Linked DNA regions of Homo sapiens: region 2 is linked to region 1. The links come from fine-mapping of genetic effects on gene expression. A gene starts in region 1. The other region holds a variant in brackets. All regions are shown on one strand. Distances are between the middles of the regions. Region 1 holds the start of RASSF6 (Ras association domain family member 6). Region 2 has its middle 40 kb from the start of UMLILO.

Evidence for each region. PIP is the estimated chance that this variant, and not a neighbour inherited with it, causes the effect.
Region 2: its variant is fine-mapped to the expression of RASSF6 in nasal epithelium (TOPMed, PIP 0.91).

What each region holds. Positions count from the first base shown.
Region 1 is chr4:73,615,814-73,627,099 of GRCh38, reverse strand. It overlaps RASSF6 (Ras association domain family member 6), which reads left to right and starts at 6,664. Exons shown (of 11, transcript NM_177532.5): 1 at 6,664-6,812. RefSeq lists enhancers at 6,092-6,640, 6,641-7,190.
Region 2 is chr4:73,664,643-73,676,505 of GRCh38, reverse strand. No RefSeq gene overlaps it. Among named protein-coding and RNA genes, the nearest start is that of UMLILO, 40 kb to the left of the region's middle. The variant A/G (reference allele first, on the strand shown) is at 6,789.

The sequences.
Region 1 (11,286 bases):
CACAAAATGAAATTGGACCCTTATCTTACACCATACACAAAAATCAACTCAAAATGGATAAAACACCTAAATGTAAGACCTGAAACCATAACACTTTTAGAAGAAAACAGGGGGAAATCTCCTTGTCATTGGCCTTGGCAATGAGTTTTTGTGCGTCACACCAAAATCCCGGGCTACAAAAGCAAAAATAAATAAATGGAATTGTATTAAACAAAGTGAAGGAAACAAATCAACAAACTGAAAAGGAAACCTATGGATTGAGAAAAAATGTTTGTCAACTATATGTTTGATAACAGATTAATATTATAAAGAACTCTTATAATTAATAGCTGAAAAACAACCCAATTAAAAAAATGGGTCAGAGACCTGAATAGACATTTCTCCAAATAAGACATAAAAATGGCCAACAGGTATATGAAAAGTTGCTCACTGTCACTAATCATCAGGGAAATGCAAATTAAAACCGCTATGAGATATTACCTTACACTCATAAGGACGCCTATTACCAAAAAGACAAGAGATGGCAAATGTTGGTAAGGGTGTCAAGAAAAGGAAAGCCTACTACACTGTTGATAGGAATACAGATTAGTACTGCCATTATGAAAAGCAGAATGGGGATTCTTAAAGAAATTAAAAATAGAATTACCATATGACCCAGCAATTCCCCTTCTGGGTATATAACCAAATAAGATGAAATCACCACTCCATAAAGATATCTGTACTCCCACGTTCAAGGCAGAATTATTCATTATAGCCAAGATATAGAAACAATCTAATTCCTAATTGTCCATCAATACATGAATGGACAGAAAAAATGTTATATGTATACTTGTGTGTGTATGAATATTATTCAGCCTGAAAAAAGTATATCCTGACACTTTTATCCACATGGAAGTACCTGGAGGACCTTATGCTAAGTGAAATAAGCCAGACACAGATGGAAAAATTTGCATAATCTCACGATCTCACTTATATATAGAATCTAAAAAGGAAAAAAGTAAGGTCAAAATACAAAGAGAATAAAACAGTAGTTGCCAGGGACAGGAAGGGCAGGGCAGAGGGAACGGGAAGATGTAGGTCAAAGAATACAAAGTAGTAGATATGTATGATGAATGGGTCTAGAGATCTAATGAACAACATGAGGACCATAGTTAATAAAATTTTATTATATTTGGAATTTTTGTTAAATAAGTAGATTTTAGCTGCTCTTATCACCAAAAAAGTCACTGTGTAGGTTTGTTAACCATAGTAACTATTTTACTATCCGTATGCTTCCCAACATCATGTTGGTAAACCTCAAATATACACAATAAAATGTAATTTTTGAAAACAGAAATCAAATATGCAATAAGAAAATCAACAAAGTTTAAAAAATCAAAATTGATTAAGTGCCATATTTTGAAAAACAGCAATCACTGTTACATTTCACTGGATTTCTTTATGTTTTATATACAATAACCAATTTTAAAAGGCAGTAACTTTGGGGGTGGGAAAATTATTACTGCCCATTTCATTTTTTTGAAAATGATTCTTCACATTAAAAAAAAAATTATTTCTCTTTGTACCTGTTAAAGCCTATCAAAACATCATTACAATCTGGGTTTCTTTCTGTCACTGAATTTTGAAAGTATGTATGCTTTTAAATTTCTTCTCTTGAGGTTGAAGATTGTCAGCTCCTTGAGAGAGGAGATTTTGTCTTATTTGTCTTTGTACCATCTCTGCATCTGCTTGGAAAAGATTAATTTTTCAAGGAATGACTAAACTAGATTATTTCCACTATCCATTAGGTTATTGAAAAACAGTCTATATTGAAGATAAGAAACTGTTTCTTAGAGCTTCTCAGACAAGAAACTTTCTTAGAGAAGAAAAAGCTTTGGAAATAAAAATTAATTTCATTAATTAATGAAAATAATCTTCATTGTTCAAGTTGCGAAAATGGTTGTGTTGCACTTGTCCCCATCATCATGACAAATCATGGCCTTACTCAAAAGTCACTGTTGAATCTTATGATACATAACTATGGAAAGGTGAGGCTTTTTAAAAATTCATCAACTATCTAAAAGTTTTAAAATGATTTGTACATCAATTACAGCACTGTTTTAATTAAAGTTCTGTGTATATTTTTAAAGGAAATTTCTCCTCCCTTATTTTTCTCAACAAAGTTTTTTTTTTTTAATTAAATTTCTTGTCTGTTTTCACAGAAAAGCAGTATATGTTCCTCAATTGAAACAGGAAGTGACGGTTTATTCTTCAAGTTCAAGTTAAATGTTGGGATTTTCCAAAAATCTTAATCTGTTACGGTTGCTGTAATTTATTAAAATCTTTATGGCAAAAATTTCCAGTTGTAAAATATATTTATTTTAAGCTTTACACATCGGAAATGTAATTAACACATTGCCTCCTTGTGAAGGCCTGGCTTCCTCTTTAAGGCAATTTTCCAGCTAGGTTTTTACTGGGAGTCCCCTCATTGTTTGGAACTACACTGCCTCTGCTTCCTTTTTTCCTTCCCTAGCACATATTCTTTAAGTACAGCCTCAGATATGAAATGAAGTGTAAGGCAAAAAATATGTATGCCCTCAGTATTTGATAAAAGTGTCATTTCATATCAAGAAAGAGTGTGATCTACATTTATTTACTCAACGCTTATTTATTGTTACTATTTTTTCTTGACCCAGTGTTTCTTGACCCTCAGGGGACCACACATTGTTCTAGACACTAAGCATAGAGGAGTGAACCTACAAGTCAAGGTTCCTGATCTCTTAGCGTTTATATTTTAATGACAGGAGACATAAAATAAAGAGGTAACCCCAAACAATAAAACATAATTAGCTAATGATAATTGCCACAAATACAATAAAACAAGGTGCTATAATAGAGAAAGATCAGAAGTCTTCTTCGAATACAGTCGTCATAGGAAGCTTTTCTAAGGAGGTAATATTTGAGGAAAAAAACATAGTAATGAAAAGAAACTACCCATGACCAGAGCAAAGCTTTCTTGAGTGAATCAATAATAAATACAAACGCAGTGAGACAGGAAGAAGTTTAGTCTGTTCCAGAAATAAAAATTAACCAGGGTAGCAAGTTTAGAGTTAGTACCAAGGAAGCAGAAAATCAAAAAGGTCGAAGAAGCAGGGATGAGCCAGTCATGTGGGGCATTGTAGGGCATGGTAAGCAGTTCAGATTTAGATTTTATTCCAGATGTGCGGTGCAACCACTAGAAAGCCTTTAAACCAAGAAAATCAGAAGTGGTATTGTTGTCTGGATATTGCTTATAAAAGATTACGCTAGCCACAGGTGGAGAATGGACTGTAGTAGGATAAGAGGGGAGGCATAAAGCCCAGTTCGGAGGTCATTTGTGGTATCCAAGCAAGAGATGATGCTGGCCTGATGTAAGGTGGTAGCCATGGAGATACAACATCAGGACTTGCTCATTTACTGGGCGTGGAAAGAGGGAAAGAAAGAAATCAAGAGTGCTAGTTAAACATTTGATCTGAGCAACCATGGGCCTGCCAGTCACTGTGCTAAGCTTAGTGGTTAAAATAGAGGATAAGACATTATGAATTTATGAAGGTCCTTGCCTTCATAAATTTTATAATCTATAGTTATTTAATAAACATGACTCAGTTAACAAACTAATAACTTAGAAAAATTAAGTTAGATCTAAATTTCATGGTGTATTAACATAATAAAGTCTAGATGGGCTAAAATGTTCAATTTAATAAATAAATAATATCTAAATCTTAGAAAAACTAGAAGAAGCAATATATGTGCATTTTTACATTCTTTAAGGATGGGAAAGCTTTTATAAAACTGATGTAACTGATAAAGAAAAATAATAGATTCGACCATTTACATTTTTAAACTTTTATATGTCAAAAATACCATAGACAAGACTGCAAGGTAAACAAGTCACCTTGAAAATATAGTCACAGCATATATGATGAAGAGTTGATATGTTTAATATATAAAGAGAATTTATAAATCAATAAGAAAAAAGATGAGCAAAGAGTCCAATAAACAATAAAGCAAAAGTGCAAAGTCTAAAGAGCCCAAACTTACAAGTACGATAATATATATATTTAAAATAAGATATGGATTTTTTTATGTTTCAAATTAATAAATGTTTAAAAGAAGTATAATAACCCATGTTAGCTGCCCTGGGAGTATAAAACTGACAAAGATTTTTTAAGCAGGGAAATTCTTCAAAATGCACATTGCCTTACATCTGGTAACTTCAATTTTTGAAATGTATCTAAAAGGTGTAGTCATGCTTGTGTGGAATCATATGTAATCATTCACTGCAGTGTTGTTTATAACAGTATAACTTTATCATAATAATTAAATAAGTAACGGTATTTTCATTTGGTGCAATACAGAGCAGCTAGTTAAAATTACATTGCAGGAAAAAAAGTGACTGATTTATAGTAAATTGTTCATACTACGTTTGATGTGATGAAAGCAGGCTATAAACCAACAAACCAAATGTAATAGCATTTTGATAAACAGCCACAGGGAAAATAAGTCAATAAAGACATTCAACAAATTGTTTATGATGATTATACTTGAGAGATGGAATTATAGGTGCTTTTTGTCCTCTACATTTCTGTGTTTTTCAGATTTTCCACATTGCATATGTGCAATTATATACTTTTTATATTATCAAATAAAAATTACATATTTACAAACAGATAAAACACTAAAAAACGAAGTCACTAAGCCTCTAACTTTACTTTTCTTTAGAAAACCAGTTGGAAAGCAGTCATCAGAGTAAAAGTTTCCACAGCATCTGCCATTTAACAGTTTCTAAGCCTTTTTGGAGTCCTTTTGAAATTGGAGATATTGGCAAAAAACAAAGCCCCCAAATCCAATGCTTGCAGGTAAAAGATGCAAAAGAATGTTGCCCTGATGCTGACAATAAGCAAATGACCCACTTCAAGCACAGACAATGGAGGTGGAGCATGGATTTGAGCAAGATATCCTGGAACCGAGAGCTGTAACTACTCTAGGTCCTGCTAGTCATCATTCAAAGGTCAGTCCATACCAGCAGCCACATACCAGAGAGTTATGGAGCCAACATGATGATCGAATTAATATCTGCAAGTAATACTAAGTCACATCTGTCCTTACATAAGATTGTAAAATCTTTGATTGTGATCCAATAAAACCATTTGCTCAAATAATGATAAATCTGATAGTTCCTGGTCTCCGCACACCACAGATTAAATAGATAAACTGCCTAATATTTTTTCTTTTTTTTTTTTGAATCAGGCTGGAGTGCAGTGGTGCAATCTTGGCTCTCTGCAGCCTCGACTTCCCAGGCTCAAGTGATCCTCCCACCTCAGCCTCCCGAGTAGCTGGGACTATAGGCATGCCCCACAATGCCGGGCTAATTTTTTTTTTTTTTTTTGCAGAGACAGGGTTTTGCCATGTTGTCCAGGCTGGTCTTGAACTCCTGGGCTCAAGTGATCCACCAGCCTTGGTCTCCCAAAGTGCTGAGATTACAGGCGTGAGTCACTGCACCTGGCCTGCCTCACCTTTTGAACATATAGGATCTTACTTAAAGTGCTATGACAAACATGCAACCTGAACATCTAGAGTCATTCTGTTTGTCTGGCGTTTGAACACGAAAGATACTAGAAATTAACTCTGCCTGCTGAACTTTTTGCAGGAATCAGATTGAATTTCTTTTGAGGGCTCTCAGGTTTACACTTGTAAAATAACCTATTATGTTTAAAAATTATGAATAGTTGCTTTACATAGGAAACCAGTAAAATAACAATGATCCTTAAAAATCTGTGTGTGTGTGTGTGTGTGTGTGTGTGTAAATGTACTTCATATTTCCACAGCATCTGTCATTTAACAGTTTCTAAGCCTTTTTGGTGTCCTTTTGAAATTGGAGATATTGGATAAAACAAAGCCCCCAAATCCAATTCAGTAGATAATGACTAAATTATTATTTATCTCCTCTGTTTTGTTTCATTATGTTCATTTTCAAACTTTGATGTCTACCAGTTTCTTCTGTGGAGCTTATAAAAAATATAAATACCCGAAGTGTATGCATGGCCTACTAAATCAGAGTCTCACAGTTGATGGTACCTGGGTTTAGCAGAATACATAGGTGGTCCTGGTGCACCCTGAAGCGCGAAACGCTGCTCTGGGTGAAAAAAAGTGCTAGCAGGGAAATGTGTTAGCAAAATAACAAGGAAAAGAAAGTTAACAAATCTCAAATTGGAAAAGAAAAATCTTAAAAAGAAAGACGTGAATAATGGCGTTCAGTCTTGGTTGGTGTCATTTCTCACAGGCCAATTACCTACAGTCTGGGTGGACTAGAGAATAGAGATTAACATCAGTCAAATCCCGTGGTTAAAGCGTTAACTAGAATGTCCATTCATTTCTCAAGAAGTGTGGCAGAGAGCAAAGGAGTGTACCTATCAGCTGTTCCTAAGAAAGTAAACACTCCCAACATGCACTGAGGCACAGGGAGTGGCTCAGGTTTCTTGACACTTCCCTGCTGTGGCGAAAAGGAGAAATAATTAACAGCTCCTGGGGCTCCAGGATCGCTGATCGCGTCGGGGGCACTGCAAGCGCCCAGCTGAGCCATGCTCTGGGAGGAGACAGGCGCCGCCCCTGCGCCCGCGCGGGCCTCGGACCTCCCCTACAGGTGAGTGACTCGCGGAGTCCCAGCCCGGCAGAGACAGGGCACTGGTTTCCCTCTACCAGAGTTCCTGACCCAGCCGAGAACAAACCGCGAAGCAAGTTCAGCCGAACAACGATGGTGAAAAGGGTCCTCCTGCTCACAGTGTGAATAACAGGTAAAAAATGGGGATGGGGAAAAAAACTTTCTAATCCACTCCCTGGGGTCATGTTGAGGGCAAGTTATTAGAAAGCAGAATCCATAGGCAACAAAGTTAAGTGTGTGTGTGTCATAGCAGCCTGAATCGCACACATGCCTTTTCCTTTTGATTTTCTCAGAATATGCTTTCCTAACCAAGGTAAGCTTGTAGGGTGGGAGGGAGAGAGGGGAAAGAAGGGAGGGAAAGGGTGCAGAGAAGGGCTTGGAGGTAAATGTGACCATAGGACCCCTCCTCCCTTTAGTTCAATGAGCCCTTCACCTGTAATTGTGCCTGGCAAAAATCGTGCCTTACAAAGATACTAGACTTCTGGATGGCATACTCCTTCCTCTGAGTATCCTTATGGTTAGAATATTGTGTTGAATCATCGCACTGGAAAGAACTTAATTGAGGGTTCAGCTCAACTTTTATTTGTTTCTGCAAAGTGACAGAAAGCATGCCCCCCACCAAAAAAAAAATGAATTTTCAATATAAGCGCTCACCAAACAATGAAATAATAAACATAAATAATTAAATGGGAGTGCATGAGTTAAGGATATGAATTCTGAAGCAGAAGAGTGGTAGGTTCAAAGCTCGGCTTTGCCACTTATTAGTTTGCCCCCTCTCAAGTTTCTTAACCTAAGCCCCAAACGTTTGTCTGTAAAACAAGCATCATCAAAGGATCTGCCACATAAGGCTTTCTTTGATGGGAACTGAACAGTCAGCAAGTGTTCTGTAAGTGATACCTACTGTTAGCATTAAGAATAAGCTGCTCTGCCAAAGGGGCCGTTATCAGGGAGGGCAAGCTGAACTAGGGAGACCAGACAGTGTGTATTAGGATGCTGGAATTGAACTGGTTCCCGGAGACTGGATCCAGGACAGGCAAGCAGGTGACAGGTGTGCTAGGATCATCTCTCTGGGTAGCAACGAAATGACCTGGCTTCTTTCCATTTTTCAGATAGAGTATGTGGTGGCAAATTCAGACATATTTGCTACTCAATCAGTTTTCTTTTGAAAAATTCACATTTACATTAATCTGTTATTCCTAAAAAGAAAATAGAATTTTAGAGTAAGAGAGTTACACACAATCTCATATTGTGGAATTCATGCCATTTGGGTTTTATAAAGGAGACTGCTTTTGAATAACTTTCATCAATTTAGACCATATAATCCATGTCTTTATATTTCAGCACATATTGAATTGTTTGTATTGAAGTGCTGTTTTTAATTTGTGTTGATGGACAAGAGACATGAAGGAATAATACTTGTATTTTGTCAGTCTCTACCTCTTAAGCTTAAATTACAGGAAAGTGGCTTTATTTTATGAAGTTTCACTTAAAGGGCACTTTTGTCAATGTTGTTAGTTATTAATGTTGCTAATTTTCTTGAGGGGACCAACTTAGTGTCTATGACTAGTAATTTCCATTGACTTCATTTTTATCTTGTTATTTTATTAAATAAAGCAGTCAAAGAGTTTGCAGTATACTCTAACTTAATATCATTGGTGTTTTAATGGATTCTTTTTTCAAATTGCAGAGTTGAAATTCTTCAGTGTGCTTACAATTAGATATTGACTGGAGAATTGTGGATAGAATTCTAAACCCAACCTAACTGAAGTTTACTATGTTATTTCCCTCTGGGGTCTGATTGTGTTTAGTACAGTTTAGCTAAAAACTTATAAAGGAATCAAATTGAATTAGAATAAGTTAGGGTTCCAATATTCATTAAAGATTTTTCAAAGAGGAAATATGCTTTTATGCTGAATTTCCATATTGTTATACATCCTTAAACAAAGTTATTTGCCTTTATATTTATTGATAGACATATGTCTAAATAAAGAATAGTAGCCCCAATTGAGATAAATTTATTTAACCATATTTGAAATTGATTTGAGATTAATCTACTTAACCGTAACTGGGTGGAAGTCTTTCTAGTTAAAATCTGTTTAGATAGATAGATAGATAGATAACAACTTTATATCTATACATTAGAATATTGTGTTGAATTTACATTTATTCTACTATTTCTCACGTGTATAACATTTTATTATAAACTATTAAATGTTGTGGTCAATCAGAGAGAGAGAGAAAGAGAGAAAAGAGTGACACAGAGAGACCCAGCAATGATTACGAAAAAATTAACTTTTCCAGTTATATTCAAAATAGTGTAACATGTATGTAACAAGTCTTTTAAGCATGTAATTAAAAGTTCTATACCTGATTCTTGTTTTAATTTCCTAAAATAAGAAGGATCCTTTACTTTTAACTGAGATAGAAACCCAATGCTGACAGTCCATTTGCTTATATAGATTCATTGATTGCAATGTAGGTGGGGAATTCACGGTTACTAGAGTTACATGGGCTTCATATAAAAGCTTAGATTTTTAAAATATTCAAGTATAGGCCATTTGAAAACAAAACCTCTGAGAAAGGAATTCTGAATATTTTCCTTTCACATTACAGTTAGAGAGTTATTCTGTTGCAAAAATTAATTTGTATGTTTAAAATGATAAATTATAGTGATTTCATCACTTTCATAACATAATCTCAACAACCAAACTTAACTAATACCACTGCTTTCAGGAGTAGAACATGAAGTGTCTCCTATTTAAGTAATAAGGATGTTAACTTAAAGGAAAACTTCATCATCACCTAGAGCCTAGTAAAGGAGCTTAAGAGGAGAGAGTGTCGATTCTTTTGCAGCAAATATACAAACAGGAAAAATGAGTCGTGATCTTTGTGACGTCAGCCTAAGAATTTCTACTGGGAAGCTCAGGTGAAGCAGAAAATTTTTGAGTTCCACCACACCAGTAATTCCAGAAGATGCTGTCGGCAGACTGAGCAGCGCCTCCCAGACCCAGTGGTGGCAAGATGCCTTAAGTGCCTTAATACAAATTTGCTTCTCTGACCGTTTCTGCTTTCTTTATCTCCCTGAGGGCACCTTGAGCAGAATAAAATGCATGGCATTAGTACCATGTAAATATGCAATAGAACAGTAAAGTTTTGGCATTTCCAATTAGATTCCACTTGAACTGAGGGCAGTGGCATGCTCACATAGAAGTGTGTTTGATTCATATTCTGCTTAGTCCTCTCTTAGATTCAATGATTATAATACATTATTTCTATCTCAAAACCAACAATCACTGACTGCAACCAATATTACTTAATTAAGTGATAGTTTGTATATATGCCAACTCTTGACCTTTACTGTCTCTGCAAATAAAGCACATTTTAAGAAAAAGTATGGAGCCAAATGTTTCCCAGAAACCATCACTCTGTTAACTCTTTTCCTTTTTTGAGAGAACTAGATACTGGATGGAATTATAGATGCTTTGTCTCATTTTCTTGAAGTGATGTAATTGCATATAACTCTGCTCTTCTCTACTCCAAGGTTCCAGGTCATAACTTTGAGAAAACAGTTTCGTTTTGGAGATGAATACATAATTGTAACTTTCTATTGCTTCTTCAAGCTGAAACAATATTTTATTAAAAAGACTCTCCGTGTGTACAGCCCTTAACATACTCTTATCTCATAATTGAAATACACACTTGCTATTCTAGTGTGATACTTTCTGTTCTTTTTTTAAGTAGCTTTTACTGGGGACGTGGGTGAGAGAGATGTAACATATATTCCTTGTCTATGATTTAGACAGTACATACAAAATAAAAAAAGAAATAATTATCACACATAATCTCTTAGCTCTTAATTTTACCATTAATATTATAATATACCTCTCTGTATGTTGGATGTATTCAATATTTTGTGTATGTTTTATCTATATGCCTGCATATATTCACTCACTTTAGAAGACACAAAAATGAAATAGCAATAATTCTGTCCTAAAGGACCTAGTAATCAAATTAAGTAAAATAAAATATGGTTAGAGAGAGAAAGCAGTAAGTAATTAGAAAGCTACAGAAAATTTCCTGTGAAATTTCAGAAGCAAGAGAAATTGTCTTTGGCTGGGAAATACAGGGAAGTTAGCACCTGTATATATATGTATAGATAGATAGATAGATAGATAGATAGATAGATAGATAGATAGATATAGATATATGTATATATATTAGTTCTTTGTAAAATCATTAGCATTATGACACTTTGTGCACCTTGTGGCCTCAGAAATAAGAGGCTATAGATATAGATACAGGCTATACTTTCTGTGCCTAGCACGGTAGCAGGTGCAGAGAAGGAACTCGTGAAATATTTGTTGAATTTACAAACGAGTGAACCCAATTTTCCACTTTTAGATATGTAACCATTTAATTAACTCATGGTTGGATAACAGGAAGTTACTTTAAATGACTGACCCATTTGATTTAATTTGTACTAGAATTCACTTCCTGTCCTCTGGCCTCATTCTGGTCACAAGGCAACTGGTAAGTCCAGGCAAGCCCACCTCTAGGCAGGAATGCAGAGCAGGGGGAGGTGAACCACGTTCCAGCATTGCTGGAAC
Region 2 (11,863 bases), 49 kb before region 1:
AGTTCTACATGGACTCAGGCAAGTTACTGACTCCTTTCAGGAGCCTGCTCTCAAGTCTTGAGAGTTTTCCCAATAGCTCCTTGGCCTTTCAAAGAAAATGGTGGGGAAAGAGTGGTGTCATTAAGTGGAAACAATATAGGAAGGTGACAGCTACCCTGAACCTGACTCACAGGTTCTGACAGAAAGAGGGTGGGTATCCAGTTCCAGGACTTTCTAGTCTCACCAGTATTCAAAGCATTTAATGGAAATACAAATTAGAGTTCCCTGAATAAAGGAGAGCTTGGTGCCAATCAGGAGCAGACTTCTTTTAATCATTATGTTATTTACCAATGCAAGGTCACGGTGGGAAGTGCCTTCAAACGATAGTAAAAAGTAGCAATAGCTAAAATGTAGTGAGCTCTCACTGTTCAGTCTCTGAGCTAAGCACTTAATGTACATTTTCATATTTGATGTTCTCAGCAACCTAATGATGTAGGTACTATTTTTATATCAATTTTCCAGACAAGATAATAGATCCTTAGGTCAAGGAAGTAGCCTGAGGCCACACACCAGGTAAATGTGTTGGTGCCTTGATCTGATTCCAGGAATTTCCATTCTAGAGTCAGTACTTTTAATAACTTTGCTCTGCTGCCTACTCAACCCAAACCCACTACCCTGCTGAGATAATTCCGTTTAAGTGGCTTCTAAGAAGCTGTGTACATGTGATGTGTAAGCAGCTTTTTAATGACCAGAGAAACAGCCGAAATGTTATCTTTTAGCTCAAGATGTGCACCTGTGTTTCACCAACACTTTATCCACATTATACTCATTTCCAACCATCAGAAACTCTTGTGTTACTTGAGTAGTGCCAACTGGATAATTCACTTGTCAAAAAATAATCCTGACTGCATATTCCCTATTTGTGAGTCTTCCCAATCTCTAACTAGGGTTAATTCCTCAGTACTACAATCGCTGTTTTCAGCTACACAGGTAATAATCCTACCAGGCAGTGCTCCTTAAAAGAAGAGGCGGTGATGCCGTTGCCCACCCCAAACTCATATGGATGTTAGGTGGATATATTATGTAATAAGGTAATTAGATCATTATACTGAAAGCAATCAAAACCAACCCTAGAATTTCTATCTCCTGAAACTAGGGGTCTTGTGACTAAATTGATTGGCTATTTGCTTTGGTATTGGAAAAGTCTTGCCTCTCGATAGATTTCTTTTTTTAAATTCTGAAAAGAGTCCATTTTTTATCTCACATATGTAACACTTCTGCCTCACATATATAAAGAATTTAAAAGAACAAAATCTTACATTTTAATTTGAAAATAAAGTATAAGATACTTAAGAAAATTTAAAACAAAAATGTTGATGAAAATAGTGATCACAACCAAGTAGCTATAATATTGCCTCTTTCAGCCCCTATCTTGTGCAGCCCAGCAATCTTCTTAGTTGATGTTACTTGTCATCTAGATTTGCTAAAGTTGATATACAGCATGTCTGAATTGGGATGGAGGCAAGTGATGATAGTCTTACTTACATAGTGTTTTCTATGTGGCAGATACCATTTTCATTTAATCTTTATTACAGCCCTGTGGCAATGGCAAAGAAAGTGAGGCTATGAGGCAAAGGGACATGCAGCAACTCCCCGAGGTCACATAGCTTGCTAGAGGCAAAGCTGGGAATTAAGCCCGGAACATGTGGCTGCGAACTCTGAGCTCCTCATCACAACTCTCTGACTCAGTGTGACTCTCAAAATATCAGCTTCAAGCCCAAGGCCACTCCTTGGAAATATGGGGCCCTAGGTAAGAAAGTTCATGCTCTGGACTTCCAGTCAGGAAAGATTTCAAGAGCTACCAAGATTAAGCATGACTGGAAAGATACAAACTGACTGGCCTAACCAGAGCCTGCCAGAACAAGCCCGCCTCACAGAACTGCCTTCCCCCAAGAAAACATTAGGTCAGGAGGACAGCCCAGAGGTGCTGATGGGTGCACACCCCGCCTTACTGGCCTGCAGTGTTCATGTTTCAAGACAGAAGAGTCTGTGATGTATCCGAGACCCTCTCCCTGCCAGGGTAGTCCCTAGAGAATGTGCAGTGTTACATCAAGTGACTGATGGAGACTGAGGGTAATCATAGCTTCCCGTTTTCAAAAAATATATATATATATATATACGTGTATATATATATATACGTGTATATATATATGTATATATATATACGTGTATATATATATGTATATATACACGTATATATGTATATATATACGTATATATATGTGTATATATATATATACGTGTATATATATATACACGTATATATATATATATATACGTGTGTGTGTATATATATATATATATTCTAAAGTTCCTTATTGGTAGCTATTCTTGATTTTCACTTCCTTCAGGCTTGCCTAAAATATCTTTTGTGTTTTTTTCTTTTTTTTTTTTATTTTGAGATGGAGTCTGGCTCTGTCGCCCAGGCTGGAGTGCAGTGGTTCGATCTCGGCTCACTGCAAGCACTGCGTCCTGGATTCACGTCATTCTCCTGCCTCAGCCTCCCTAGTACCTGGGACTACAGGCGCCCACCACCTTGCCTAGCTAATTTTTTATGTTTTTGGTAGAGATGGGGTTTCACCATGTTAGCCAGGATGGTCTCGATCTCCTGACCTCATGATCCACCCACCTTGGCCTCACAAAGTGCAGGATTACAGGCGTGAGCCACCGCACCTGGCCAAAATATCTTTACATACTTCATTTTCATAAGAATTCTAGTATTACACATTGATTTTGACTTTTCAAACTGGGAAATGTGTTGACCATTAAAGTCAACTGGTTAACCCATGAAAACCAGCCAAACAAGTTACAGTGGATACTGTGCACGTACGCCTTGCTTTGACTCAGACACAGGGCATCGCTGAAGTTTAAGATGTGATGAGCTGGCCCCTAAATCCCTGATATTCCTCAACCGTGGTCGCTGGGACTGATGTGTACCAATAAGCTTGGGAAGAATAGGGGCCTTTGTGCTATGAAAACAGACTAATCTCTACGCCTACTCTATGCCAAATAATGTCAGTTCATGAGCTGACACTGCCAACACCACTTGTTGCTTTCACAGCAAACTGGAAAATCATTGCTAAACTGCCTGAAGTATAATAATAAAAAAAATTAGAAAGTGGCCGGAAGTGGTGGCTCACGTCTGTAATCCCAGCCCTTTCTGAGGCTGAGGCCAGCGGATCTCTGAGGTCAGGAGTTCGAGTCCAGCCTGGCCAACGTGATGAAACCCCATCTCTACTAAAAATACAAAAAAAATTAGCTAGACGTGGTGGTGGGAGCCTATAATCCCAGCTACTTGGGAGGCTGAGGCAGGAGAATAGCTTGAACCCAGAGGGCAGAGGTTGCAGTGAGCTGAGATCGTGCCATTGCCCTCCCGCCTCGGTGACACGAGCGAAACTCCATCTCCAAAAAAAAAAAAAAAGAAAAAGAAAAAGACAAAATTAATTAATGCCAAATCAAGAATCTTGTCTTATGACTTTGCCAAGTAACTTTGAGTGAAACTATGTGTACAGAGATTATTTTCAATGTAAACTTTCTTGAACATCTGTGAGTGAGAAAACATGTTAGCTTCTTGGAATATAAAGTAAGACACAGTCACCTCCAGTAAAACACTGGTAACACAGTGTTGGTGGAAGCAACAAATGTTCACAATATTTAATTAAAGGGGAGCAAAACTGTCTTCTTTCCTCTCTGATGGAGACTTAATTTGATGTTAACTTAGAGTGCTGATTTATAAATAAACAGTTTACTCTCTCAGCCTTAGAATTTGGACAAAGAGATGGAGATCATACTGTTCTCAACTGCTAGGCAAAAACTTTTTTAAAGTTTTTGATGGTGAAAAAATTATAATAGAAATACTCATTGGAAGAAAAAGAATGTTGATGATGCAAGGTAAAGAAATTCTCATGTAAAAACAAAAACAAACAAACAAAAAACAGCTGAGGGGTAACAAGCCTGCTGCTCCTTCCCCAAGGGCCGTTGTCAAATTGCCTATTTCAGAGACAGTCTGAACAGGGAGGCAAGACATTTATCAATGGTGTGATAGAGGCTGACAGTTGTCAAACCAATATTATCCTACCGTTTTTTTGCCTCCTAAAAGGATTCCAATTTGACCATGTGCTCTTTAGTGACAATGTGAATTCTGCCCCTCAGGAATGAATTATGACTGATTTAAGTCCATAGTGATAATCCTACTCTCTTTTGTCAGTGATTGGTTTAGGGGTCGGCCTGTGGCCTATTTCTGGCTAGGTGGATGAGAGGGAAATCTATTAGAGGTTCCTGGGAAGGACTCTTTTCCCTGATACATATGTTCCCTTTCTACTAAGGACTTTGCCCTGTGAAGGTGTGGTGGTTGGAGTTACCACAGCCATCTTATACCCATGAGGAATGACATTGTTAATGTGATAGGATCAGAAAAGCCTCGATAACATGGTCAAGTTTCTGAGCCGCTCTTAGAACCAACCATCTCATGACTTCCTTTTATGTGAAATCATAATAAACAATTATTTACGCAAATAAGCAAAAAAAATACCATGTCTCGAGCTCAAAGGAGCAAAGAGGAAGAGCTGAGATTTCAAACCCAGATACATCTGACTCAAAAGCCATTCTCTGTGGGCGGCAAGCCACCCAGGTGCCGAGGCAAGAGACCGAGGGCACGAGCTGTTCCAGTATAATAAAATACATAAAACAACAAGAGTTATACTACATCTAGATCATAGACATGATTATACATGAATATCATTAATTATTAGTTTGTAGCAATTACTCTTTATTCCAATATTATAATAATCCTCGCTCTACAATCATAACCTAGGAAAAGCCAGGCCATACAGAGATAGGAGCTGAGGAGACATGGTGAGAAGTGACCAGAAGACAAGAGTGTGAGCCCTCTGTCAAGTCCAGACAGGGCCACTAGAGGGCTCCTTGGTCTAGCGGTAATGCCAGCATCTGGGAAGACGCCTGTTGCCAAGCAGACCATGGTCTAGTGGTAGCGTCAGTGCCAAGGAAAAACACCCGCTACTTAGCAGACCAGGAAAGGGAGTCTCCCTTTCCCTGGGAGAATTTAGAGAAGACTCTACTTCTCCACCTCTTGTGGAGGGCCTGACATCGTCAGGCCCACCCACAGTTATCCAGAGGCCTAACTGTCTCCCTGTGATGCTGTGCTTCAGTGGTCATGCTCCTAGTCCGCTTTCATGTTCCATCCTGTACACCTGGCTCTGCCTTTTAGATAGCAGTAGCAAAATCAGTGAAAGTACTAAAAGTCTCTGATATGCAGAAATAATGGCGTAAGCTGTCTCCTCTCTCCGCCTCAGCTGCCAAACAGGGAAGGGCCCCCTGTCCAGTGGACACGTGACCCACGTGACCTTACCTATCATTGGAGATGGCTCACACTCCTTACCCTACCCCTATGTCTTGTATCCAATAAATATCAGTGCAGCCTGGCATTCAGGGCCACTACCGGACTCCACGTCTTGGTGGTAGTGGTCCCCCAGGCCCAGCTGTCTCCAATTTTATCTCTTTGTCTTGTGTCTTTATTTCTACAGTCTCTCATCTCTGCACACAGGGAGAAAAGCCCGCTGACCCTGTGAGGCTGGTCCCTACATCTGGCGCTCCGACATGGGGCTCTCCCTCGCTGTGTGAAGTTGCACCTTGAGTGCGGGACTCAGCAGAGGATTTCGACGACAGATTCCTGAGGATTGCGGTCAATAAGCTTGGTGGTAAGCTTGAGCACTCAGCATTCCGGGGACACCATGGGACAGGCCAGTACTAGGTACTCGGCTTATTTAAACTTTATAAAAACCCTCCTGTATTATCTCAACCCTGTCCCTGTTCAGCCCTGCTGTAGGGCTGTCAACCTTCTGCTTGTTCTACCCAGTAATGAGGCCCTCAACCCTATCCCTCCACAGCCTAGTTTTCTCATGCCTGTTTCTTTTCCTCCTAATCAGACTCAGTTAGAGCCGCAGGCTCCCTTGAAGCCTGGTTCCTTTCCTCCTAATCGGACTCGGCTAGAGTCACAGGCTCTCTTGAAGCCTGGTTCTTTTCCTCCTAATCAGACTCGGCTAGAGTCACGGACTCCCCTGGAGTCACAGGATACCTTGAGGCCTGGTTCCTTTTCTACAAACCGGGTTCCCTTGAAGCCTCAGGCTCCCTTGAAGCCTGGTCCACAGTTGCCGGTGGCAGCCTGGATTTCAGGCCCATGAAAGACCTGCTCAGCAAGTAATCTCGTCTACCCAAGTTTGCCACTCACAAGCAACAAGTTACATACATTCCTCAAAATGGCACTCCTCTTATCAGGGCTATAGCACAGGCAAGAGAATATGGGGATCCCAAAGCCTGGCAATTTCCTGTAATTTTACAGCCTCCCTGCCGTCCTGCGGCACAAAATCAGCTACAGCCCGCTGATGTTGCTCAGCAAGCAGCTGATCTCGCGGCAAATTCTCGCTCTGTGTTAATATCTTGTTTTTCTGCAGTACAAAAAGCAGTTGCAGCAGCCGGTTTAGTTATTGCCCCAGAAAAAATCCAAACTTCTTCTCCTTATCACTATTTAGGAATGCAGCTAGAAGACAAGGTTATTAAGCGCCCCCCCCCCACCAAAAAAAATCATTGTTCCCCTCACCCGATTACAAGTCCAACAGGCTTTTGCAACCTGCATCGCTTGGCAAGTACATTTGGCAACTTTCCCGGGTATAATTGATAATCACTATCCTAATGTAAAATTATTTCAGTTCCTTCCTCACTTCTTGGATTTT[A/G]CCTAACATTACTAGAAACACCCCATTGGCTGAAGCTGTCACTGTTTTTACTGATGCTTCCTGTAATGGCCGAGCAGCATATACAGGACCAAGAGAACGTGTTCTTAATACAGGAGCTATTTCAGCACAATGAGCTGAGCTACTTGCTGTTATGGCTGTCCTTGAAGATTTCCCTGAACCAGTTAACATTCTTTCTGACTTGGCGTATGTAGCACATGTTGCTCGCAATATTGAAACTGCCTTAATCAAATTTCTGCCTAATGATAACCTATTCTTTCTTTTTCAAAGGTTTTAGTCTGTGCTCAAAGCAAGGTCTTCTCCTTTCTACATTACTCGCATTCAGGCCCACACACCCCTCCCCAAACCCCTCTTGGCAGCAAATGCCAGAGCTGATATATTAGTTGCTCCCATTTTTACAAATGCACGAAATTTTCATACTTTAACTCAAGTCAACGCTGCGAGACTCCAAAAAAAGTTCCCCCTTACATGGAAACAAGCTAAAACCATGTGCGTCACTGTCCTACTTGTCAAGTGTTAATTTTACAGCCACTTTCTTCAGGAGTTAACCCTAGAGGACTTTCACAGAATGCTCTCTGGCAAACGAACGTGACTCATTATCCTGCTTTTGGCAAGCTTTTTTTATACATGTAACTATTGACACCTTTTCTCATTTTATCTGGGCCACTTGTCACACAGGGGAAAGTACAGCTCATGTTAAACAACATATGCTTTCATATTTCTCGGTGATGGGCTGTCCCGAGAAACTGAAAACTGACAACGGCCCCGGATACACTAGTGCTGCTTTTAAAAGGTTCACTCAGACATGGGCAATTACTCACACAGCTGGCATCCCCTATAACTCTCAAGGACAGGCCTTGGTGGAACGAGCCAATAAAACACTCAAAGATCAACTTCGAAAACAGGACACTAAAACAGAGGGATGCTGCCACTCCTCATGCTCAGTTAAATCTGGCTCCTTTTACACTAAATTTCTTAAACCTAGCAAGAAATCAACCTTTTACAGTGGCAGAACAACATTTCACTGGAAGTAAATTTGATCCACAAAAAGGAATGCGGGTATGGTGGAAGGATGCAACTAACAAATAGGAATTAGGCACAGTCGTAACATGGGGTAGGGGTTTTGCTTGTGTTTCCCCAGGAAAAGGACTACAGCCCATGTGGGTCTCCCCCACCGACAACTGAAATTGCACCATAACTCCAAAGATGAAACGTTCCCAGAAACAAAAGGCAAAGACCCCTCAAAAACCGAGGAGGAAATTTCGCCTCCTGACACATAAACTTCATGACCTCGACATTGAGACAAAATCTCGCTGTGTGACCTACAACACCACTCGTTCAACTCCACCAACATGGGGTCAAATAAAGGTCTTATCCCATCACACAGAAAATTTATTAAAAGAAAAAGGAATCCCAAAAACGACCAGTAATATAATTCTGGCTGTCTTTATGGTAGTCAGTGCAGCAGTAAGTATACCACCAGTTGGGGCAACTCAAAATTATACCCACTGGGCATATGTTCCTTTTCCCCCTTTAATTTGGTCTGTCTCCTGGATGGACTCCTCAGTAGAAGTTTACACTAATAATAGTGCATTCATGCCGGTCCCTAATGATGATAGGTTTCCAGCTCAACCGGAAGAAGAAGGTATGCACTTTAATCTGTCATTTGGCTATAAATACCCACCACTGTGTATCACCTGGCTGTTTAGCTTATTCTTACCAGAATTGGATGTGGACCGTACCATCCTTAACAAATGATTCTTATCAAGTACATAATGTGTTCAGTAGCAATTCTTTTCAACTTCTCACTGTTAAACTTAAGCCTCTTGAGGAATTGAGGGCTCCTGTCACTACTAACAGCAATAAAACAAAAGGACTGCCAGACTGCCCAAAGAAACCTACAAAGGGAACTTTTCTACTGAATTCAATTTTATGGAATGATTGTAATGCTCCCAAGGCCATTGTGCTGCAAAGTCTAGCCATGGGAACTGTTATTGATTGGGCTCCAAAAGAGCATTATTCGCAGGATTGCTCCAGCAAAAATACCTCATGCTCGGAGTATAATTATTTGTTAGATTATATAAAGGATGGATGGCAGTCATACAGGTTGAGACAATAGGTGTCTCCTTACCCATTTAAATGGATGGACGCAGGCATTGTTCCTCCTAGACCAAAAATGATTCATCCCATTGTTACCCCAGAACATCCTGAATTATGGAAATTAGCTGCAGCTATAACAGGAATAAGGATATGGAACACTACTTATCAACTCCTTCACACTAATACCAAAACACCCACATTCAACATCACCTTGATATCTAAACAGGTAATACCCATCAGGAGTTGTGTCAAAACCACTCACCTGCTGTTAGTTAGAAATATAATTATCATTCCCAGTACACAAACTATAGAATGTGATAATTGTAAGCTGTTCACGTGCATTGATGCTACTTTTAATCCCACAACAAGTATTCTCTTGGTAAGTGCTAGGGAGGGGGTATGGATACCAGTTTCTTTACATCATCCGTGGGAGTCTTCCCCCTCTATATACATAGTCAATGAAGTTCTTAAAGGTATCCTCAAAAGAACAAAGAGATTTATTTTTACTCTTATTGCAGTCATTGCAGGTCTAATTGCGGTTACTGCAACAGTGGCAACTGCTGGAGTTATGATTCACAATTCCGTTCAAACCACTCAATGTGTTGAAGCATGGCAAAAAAACTCCTCCAGACTTTGGAATTCTAAGGCTCAAATTGATCAAAAATTAGCTAATCAAATTAATGATCTCTGCCAACGTGTGATATGATTGGGAAATAGAGTTATGAATTTGGAACACCGTATGCAATTACAGTGTGATTGGAATACTTCTGATTACTGCATAATGCCTTATGCTTATAATAAAGATCAGCATAGCTGGGAAAAGTTCTCAAGACATTTAAAAGCCTGGGATGATAACTTAACCTTGGATATTTCAAAACTTAAAGAACAAATTTTTGAGGCTTCACAGGCTCATTTATCCACTGTTCCTGGCTCAGACATTTTTGAAGGAATAACTAAAGAATTATCTGATCTTAATCCCTTTAAATGGATCAAACCCCTTGGAGAATCATTGTTGTCACTGGCATTATTAATACTGGTATGCTTATGTTGTCTCTTTTAGTCTGCAGATGCCTCCAAGGAGTCCGGAAACAAGTCCAAAGTCAACGACAAGCAATGATGGTGATGGCGATCCTAGTTAATAAAAAGGGGGCAGATGTGGGTGGCAAGCCAATCAGGTGCCAAGGCAAGAGACCGAGGGCACGAGCTGTTCCAATATAATAAAATATATAAAACAACAAGAGTTATACTAGATCTAGATCATAGACATGATTATACATGAATATCATTAATCATTAGTTTGTAGCAATTACGCTTTATTCCAATATTATAATAATCCTCGCTCTACAATCATAACCTAGGAAAAGCCAGGCCATACAGAGATAGGAGCTGAGGAGACATGGTGAGAAGTGACCAGAAGACAAGAGTGTGAGCCCTCTGTCAAGTCCAGACAGGGCCACTAGAGGGCTCCTTGGTCTAGCGGTAACGCCAGCATCTGGGAAGACGCCTGTTGCCAAGTGGACCATGGTCTAGTGGTAGCGTCAGTGCCAAGGAAAAACACCCGCTACTTAGCAGACCAGGAAAGGGAGTCTCCCTTTCCCTGGGGGAGTTTAGAGAAGACTCTACTTCTCCACCTCTTGAGGAGGGCCTGACATCAGTCAGGCCCACCCACAGTTATCCGGAGGCCTGTCTCCCTGTGATGCTGTGCTTCAGTGGTCATGCTCCTAGTCTGCTGTCATGTTCCATCCTGTGCACCTGGCTCTGCCTTTTAGATAGCAGTAGCAAAATTGGTTAAAGTACTAAAAGTCTCTGATATGCAGAAATAATGGTGTAAGCTGTCTCCTCTCTCCGCCTCAGCTGCCAAACAGGGAAGGGCCCCCTGTCCAGTGGACACGTGACCCACGTGACCTTACCTATCATTGGAGATGGCTCACACTCCTTACCCTACCCCTATGTCTTGTATCCAATAAATATCAGCACAGCCTGGCATTTGGGGCCACTACCGGTCTCCATGTCTTGGTGGTAGTGGTGCCCTGGGCCCAGCTGCCTTTTCTTTTATCTCTTTGTCTTGTGTCTTTATTTCTACAATCTCTCATCTCCACACATGGGGAGAAAAACCCACCGACCCTGTGGGGCTGGTCCCTACAATTCTCTTGGTCTTCTGTTCCAGCTCTAATGAATTAAAAAACTAAGAAAGTAAGAAATGGATATTTAATATCCTGGCTATGTTCTTTGAAGGGTGTCTCTGCAGACCACTAAAGTGAATATTTCTATAACATACACTGGGCAAGTCCCAGATTTGTCCCGGAGTTTCTGCTTCCTATGCCCTAAGTCAAGGTCAGATGTAGAGCAGCAAGTAATATTCTGACCAGTGAAGTTTAGCCAAATGATCCAAACAGACAGTTTGGTTTAAAGCTGCTTTAGGGATTCAAATCCAAATATCAGAAGGATCAACAATTCTTGATCGTTTTGAATCTAAACAAACACTACCAGTATCCTTCTTGATTTTTGGTTGTGCAAAATGATTGTCTTTAAAAACTTTCCAGAGCAGTCAAATAAACTTCTGGAGGTGTTAGAGTTATGTCAAATACTTTAACAACTCCCTTTTTCTGATGAAATTATGATCATTTTGTACTGAAAACAGAAGCATACATTTCTCATAAATCAAAATCACTTTAAGAAAAGTAGAGCAATTTGAAACACTCCAGGGGAAAGGAATAACATTCTACTCTCATGAATAAAAATTACTGGGGCCTGTCTCAGCAGAAAAAGTAATTCCTGGGAAGAGAAGTATCTCTTATGAAAGGCTTTTCCCCAAAACTGGATGGTTGTGTGGGAGAGGAGTTGGAGGGTGCAGAGGAGGCACAGAAAGGAAGAAATAAGCATAATAGGATGAGTGAGAACCCCAAACAGAGCCCCACTCAAGGCTGCTGTCCAGGAACTGGCAGCATCAGCATTGC